Linked DNA regions of Homo sapiens. The protein of the gene in region 2 interacts with the protein of the main gene of each other region in a pairwise test. Each region holds a gene or a part of one and is shown on either strand. Other genes may lie near its edges.

Region 1 (3,500 bases), on a different chromosome or scaffold from region 2:
AAAGTACTAATGAAGGGATAGAGATAGGTGCAGAGTGAATGTGGGGGCTGTAAAACGGCGTATTGTAGAAAGTGAGAGATATCCTGAGTACTGGCGAAAGACTTCCAGTACAGAATTGAGTTCTTCTAGAAAGGGTACCTACCAATACTTTGGATACAAAGGAATACAGGCCACCCTCACGCTCAGCTCTAAGAGTAGGGAGTGAGTTAAACGAACAACAACAACAACAGAAAAAACAGCCCACAGAACATTAACTCCTTGTTTCAATGATCACACTTTGTTCACTTTTTTTTTTACTTCTTTATATATTATTTCTTACAATTCCATTTTATCTGCTTTATTGTCTTACTAACTGTACTCCTTTGTTATTTTCCAATGCATCTTTTAATTTATCACAGTCAGTCTTCAAGTGATATTAGCCCATTGCACATGTATTTTAAGAGCCTTGCATATGTATTTCCACTTTCCCATTCATTTTTTGGGCTGCTGTTATACAATATTTTTAAATTGCTTAGAAACAACATAATACATTGTTACTATTTTTGCTTAAGCAGCCAGTTATCTCTTAAGGCGATTTAAAAAATAACAAAGAATCTTTTACATTTCTCAGATATTCACAGTATTTTTTATTCTAGCTATACAGAGCTCTATACTTCACCAGGAGCAAAACTCTATTCCACAATAAGAGAACCTCTACCACTGATCACTTGGCTCACAAATTTGTGGTTGGTTCAAAAGGAAATGTAGAGAAAAAATAAATAGCTCAAAATAAACCCAGTACTACTAATAAAATGTTTAAAAAAACTTCCCTGGCCGGGCACGGTGACTCACACCTGTAATCCCAGCTCTTTGGGAGGCCTAGGCAGGCAGATTGCTTGAACTCAGGAGTTCAAGATCAGACTGAACAACATGGCGAAACTCCATCTCTACAAATAATACAAAAATTAGCCAGGTGTGGTGGCACGCACTTGTGGTCCCAGCTACCTGGGGGGCTAAGGTAGGAGGATCACTTCAGCTGGGGAGGTGGAGGTTGCAGTGAGCAGAGATCGCGCCACTGCACCCCAGTCAGGGTGACAGAACGAGACTCCATCTCAAAAAAAAAAAAAAGAAAAAAAAATCAACAAATAAATGTTATAGTCAGCATACATTTCTAACACCAATCATATTTACTGGCATTAAAGAACCTGGTAACGATTAACCCTTGTCTTCAATTGCCTTTTTTGATTATTGCAGAAAAATACTGCAACAACTAGTGATGTGCTAAAAGCAGATTTTCCCTACAAGTTTCTGAATGGCATTTTTACAAGTCAAGCCAAATACTGAGAATGCCTGGTCTTTCTTCCATTAGCTCAGTGCCTGAGGGTAGGGCTTTTTTTCCAGGCCTGACCTATCCCTCTGTAAAGTATCCCTCAGATCTTCTATATGGTTTACAAGAAATAAGTAGCAATTTTTTTGTTGTTGTTTATGGGACTGAACTGAATGAAGTTTACTGAGGTTGTTAGCAAGTTCTGATACATGAATATAAAACTATATGATATCAAAGGATCAATTAGCAAAGTTAAAGTTAGTAAGAGATTTCTAAGCTCCCGCATCCTCATGGATGCCTGTTTTCTTTAGAGGCTTTAGTTCCTAATCATCAGCATATGGACCTTAACCTACCAGCTTGTTGTTCACTTTCATTGTCTTCCTTTCTCTTAATGTGTTCTGCCTATACTAATGTAGAACATTCATTTATCCAGCCCCTACCTACTTAGAGTCTGTGTAGGCTAAGTGCCATTCTGAATGCTTTCTATTCCAGAACTCCCAACCCTAATATTTCCCCAGTTTTTCCTCTCCATTCTTCTTAAGCAGAAATGAGCGGTCCCTAACATTACCAAATGAACCCATTCCAAACATCTCAAACCATGCCATGTTTTTACAGACAAGAGCAAACAAAAACCTGTCCAACACCAATTTTCTAATTCTCTTAATAGTTTACAAAAAGGACATGAAGGAGGTAACTGATGGCAACAGAGGAAATGCCAACTAAAGAGAACACAATACAATGGAACAATGTCTAAAGAAAAAGATTCTCGCTTTGGCTTTAGTAAGTAAATATACCTGTGCTAGATAAGGAAAAAAAGATGTTAATAAATTCTATTCAATTGTTGCTATAAAGGAATGTTAATAGATCACTTCCATGAAGAATTAAAATCAAAAGGATTAACAGGATTAAGCAATCAATTTCAGATGACAACATTCAGCCATCTAGATGAAGCTTCTTTCAGTTCCCAGAGTGTAGTTATTCTTTCTCCGTCATCTCCTTATCCCCTCCCTCATACTTTCCCCTGACTAGCTTTACTCATCCTTCAGGTCTGAATGTCACTTCCTCAGGAAGCATGCCCTGAAACCCCCAGGTCATCACTTTGTTAGAGTAAAAGTCTATCTCCTCCTGAGAGGCAAGAAAGCCAATCTGACCTGGAAATATCAAAGCAGTTACTGTCAGTAGATCATTATTTATAGTGATTCTAGATATCCATTATTTTTGTAAAATGCAAACTCACAGCTATCATCCAAGATGGGAACACAACAACACTATCCAAGATTTCTACATTACTTTCAAATTTACAAAGCATTCCATATCCACTACTTAATTTCATCTTCATCATAATCTAGAGTAATATTAACTCCATTTTACAGAGAGAAAGCTACAACTCAGGATTGGCCTTTTTTCAGAACCCAATATTAAATGACAGAGCCAGTCTCAACCCATGTCTTTTATGCCAACTGTTTTTTCCATTATGGCCAGGACATCAGACATTGACAACGAACCAATGGAAAAGACAAATGAATTCAGTGAATTCATTTTCTTTTTCCTTCTGTGTTTTAATGTTACATTTTTATGCAAAATAAAAGTGTTTCTAACTTTTAGTCAGATACCCTTTTCCCAGTAGACCAAAAGAATGTCATCTCATGCCCACTAACTTTTAATGTTGGGAAAAATGCTCTACTTACTTTTACTGAAATTCAACAACTAGTTTTTGAGCTCAGCATTGTGCTAGCCTCTATGAAGTATACGAAAGTATCACACAATGGGATGCCTGGTCTGAGGAGTTCACAATATCCGTGGAGTGGCAAAAATAACACTATCAATGTAAGTCAGTACTAAATTAAAAACTGAATGTTTATAAGGTAAAGAAAAGTAGATGCTCAATAAGCTTAAAAGGTTTTGAGGCAATGGTTAAGAACTAAGATAAACCTTAGACAATAGTCAGGACTTGGATAAGCAGATGGGAGGACAAAAGGAGAAATCGTTCATACAAGACCATATTGGAAATGAAAATGGCATGTTCCTGGGGCAATACAAGGAGCCTGAACTGAAAAACAAGTTCGCTTTAGGGTGGCATGGAACATAAAGTTAGAAAAGTGATAGGGAGATGAGACAAACTAAAGGGAGATGGATTAAGGAGCAATCATATTTTTGATCACAGAAGGGGCATGAAGGAAGCAGTGACTAAGGA
Region 2 (3,500 bases):
TTTTTCTTCTTCTTCTTCTTCTTTTCTTTTTCTTTTTCTTTTTTTTTTTTTTGAGACAGGATCTTGCTCTGTCACCCAGGCTAGAGTGCAGAGGCACAAGCACGGCTCACTGCAGCCTCAATCTCCTGGGCTCAAGTAATCCTCTTATCTCAGCCTCCCGAGTGGCTGGGACTACATGTGCACACCTCTAGCCCGGCTGATCTTTTTATTTTTATTTTTAGTAGAGAGTGGGTCTCATTATGTTGCCCAGGCTGGTCTTGAACTCCGGGACATAAGCAATCATCCCTCCTCAGCCTCCCAAAGTACTGGGAATACAGTCATGAGACACTGTGCCTGGCTAGTTTTCTTTATAACAGTTTCTACTATCTGAAATTATATTACACATACATATGTTTATTTCCACTCCTCCAAAAAACACCAGTGCCATAGAGATAGGAAACGTATGGATCACCACTGTATCCCCAGTCCCTAGATTAGTGCTTTACAAATGGTAGATTTTCAATAAATGTTTGAATGAATGAGAGAATCAACCAATAAGTCAATAAACCTGAGATATGCTACTTGCTGTCTGTAAGACATTGGGCAAAGAATTGACCCTCTCGGTGCCTCAGTTTCCTTGTTTGTAAAGTAGAGATAATAAAATAGCTACCTCATTAATGTTGGTGTAAGCATTAAGTATGATAATTATGTAAAGGGTTTAGGCCAATAACTGGTAGGTAAAAGTACTCAAAAAGTTACTTTTTGAATCATTTCATGGCAATGCATTTCTGCCTGAATCCCCGCAGCAACAGGGAACTCAGTAACTGAGTGGAGTTAGAGCGGCTACTTCATCCATCCAAGGCTCCCCAGAGCCTTCCTGCCCTGCAGGCTTCCCAGCACTGCCTCAGACTCTCTTTATCTATGCAAGACTGGGAACCCTCGGGGGAAGAAGACAATCCAATTTCCATTATGCAGGCTAGACTCAACACAGGAGAAACATCGTGAGCATCTGAACCTCTTTGGAGTGAGGGCTTGCTCTGAGGGCAAAAGCTATTGGAATTGGGCAAAACACAAATTTTGAGTTCAACTAGTTGAATTTCTACCTTCATTTTAGACGTGTTGCTTTTTTAGGGAAACTTGCCTTTGAAGAATTCATCATCAGGTAGTAAAACATGACCAGGATCTTCAGAACAAAGATGGTTTTTTGGGGGGCTTTGTCAGATGTAGATTCTCGAATGTTCAAGATTGAAGTCAGGATGCGAATGGCTTCTGCTTCTTGGGCTTCATCTGCATTGGAAGGGGAAGAAAGAAAAAACAGGCTCTTGGCAACTGAGTCTGCCCTCATCAAAAGCACTCAGCTGTTAAAGCGCCTGGTCTGCTGAAGCCTTCCCAAGGGCACTGGTGGAAATAGCACCAATTACAGCAAGTTTTTTACCTAGAGGACTCCCTCCAGGTGCAAAGCAGGAAGCTCCGAAGCAGGAGTTTCAGACCGCTTTCCAGCTTTGCTTAGCATGCCATTATCAGAGTAGCCTAAAAATAGGCTCACTCCCACAGGTCCCAAAGTTGCTAAGGTTTCTCTCTTTCGGAGTCCTGAACTCTAGATCTCTTGGGCTTACAAACACAGATAATCTGCCACAGGCAGATTCCTTGGGTCCAACTCAGATTCCACTCTACAGCTGAGAGGAGAGAACTGGGGGAAGGGACTTCTTGCAGCTGCAGCAGCTTAACTCTTCTCGTCTAGGCCATAGATGCGTAAGCAACAACCTTCATGCTTCCCTCTGAGAGTCTGTTTACTATTTTCCCCAGTAGTTTTTGGTCCTACTTTAGTCATCATTTACTGAGAAGTCACTACATGCATTTAAAAGCACTTATACAAGTACTAAGCTTAGAGAAAAAGACGAAAAGGATATACACCATCATGTTAAGGTTGGCTATCTTTGGATATCTATGATTTCCAAGTTTTCAGCTATAACATGAACTATTTACATAATGAGAGAAAATTCAATAAAGTTATTAATTTTTTAAACTTTAGCTCAAAACCTCTCCTCCAAAGAGTCTTCCTTCTTCAACACCACCCAGCTGTCCTCACCTCTTCATTCTGGGACTCATCTTGTAACATAATTTGTACTCACAGGAATGTTCTTTTGTTATTGCCTATAGGTTCTATATCACCAACTGCACTGTATGTCTCTTTTGAGCAGAAACTAGATCCTCTGTGTCTTTTCATTGTCTCTGAGGGCATGATGCTGTACGGTACTATTCAACACTTAGCCCTTTGCTGGCCCGGGGAATACAGTTTAATCCAACTGGGCCCTGCCACTGAGAAGCTCACTGTTCAGTAAAGCATGAAGTTAAGGCACCAGAAGAAATCAGCAATGCACCTTCTGTGTAGAGTCTACCTTGGCTTACGTGTCCTGGAGCAAGAGTCCCCAACCCCCAGGCCATGGACCAGAACTGTTTTGTGGCCTGTTAGGAATCGGGCTGCACAGCAGGTGGTGAGCAGGGGTGGTAGGGGCGAGTAAAGCTTCATCTGTATTTACAGCCACTCCCCATTGCTTGCATTACCACCTGAGCTCCACCTCCTGTCAGTTCAGCAGCAGCATCAGATTCTCTTAGGAGCGTGAACCCTATTGTGAACTGTGCATGCAAAGGATCTAGGATGTACACTCCTTATGAGAATCTAATGCCTGATGATCTGTCACTGTCACCCATCACTCCCAGATGGGACCATCTAGTTGCAGGAAAACAAGCTCAGGGCTCCCACTGATTCTACATTATGATGCATGGTATAATTATTTCATTATATATTACAATATATTAATAATAATAAAAACATAGTACACAATAAATGTAATGCACTTGAATTCTCCTGAAACCATTCCTCCCACGCCCCCCAGTCCATGGAAAAATTGTCTTCCATGAAACGGGTCCCTGGTGCCAGGGAGAGATTGGGACTGCTGCCCTGGAGGGATAACATAGAAATGGATGCTCTGCAGAAATCACAGGGGGCTTTGATGTGGTCTTTTTTTCCCTCTAAATCTGTCCCTTAGTAACCCCCGAATGGCTATGTGTGATGATAGGGATCTGAATTCTTCCCAACACTGGTAAAATCTCTTTGATCCCCGTGTCTCAGTTTTCTCCATCAGCAACATGGGGAAGGTGGCAATGGTGTGCTTCATGACAGGGACAGCTGCTTTCCCTCTTAGGGACAAGGTCTGTGTATTGGGTGAGATGAAGTCACTGCTCTCCCTTCAGGGAAAACTGCCACTTACCCAAGCCAGTGTCATTCTCAAATAGTTTGCCCAGTAAATCCATTTGTTGGATGTGAGCCTGTGAGAGGACTTGATAGTGATTGTTCAAATATGCATGCCAGATCTCAGAGACCTGTTGGGAAAAGAGATGGTAATACAACAAGCAGGCCAGACCTCAGCCGTCGGACCAGGCAGGTGAGGAGAGTAGCGCATTTGGCCGGGCTTCTGGACAACCTGGAGGTTCTCTCTCTTACTGTGCCTGGAGGCAGA

Evidence for each region.
Region 1: the proteins of ZMYND12 (region 2) and ARMC8 interact in binary tests that used the Homo sapiens proteins (3 or more experiments, as listed by UniProt).

The regions. Positions count from the first base shown.
Region 1 is NC_000003.12:138,218,301-138,221,800, reverse strand, and holds part of ARMC8 (armadillo repeat-containing protein 8), read right to left. Parts: intron 1-3,500. UniProt on the Homo sapiens protein: Component of the CTLH E3 ubiquitin-protein ligase complex that selectively accepts ubiquitin from UBE2H and mediates ubiquitination and subsequent proteasomal degradation of the transcription factor HBP1.
Region 2 is NC_000001.11:42,432,023-42,435,522, forward strand, and holds part of ZMYND12 (zinc finger MYND domain-containing protein 12), read right to left. Parts: intron 3,364-3,500; coding exon 3,252-3,363; intron 1,267-3,251; coding exon 1,121-1,266; intron 1-1,120. UniProt on the Homo sapiens protein: Required for sperm flagellum function and male fertility.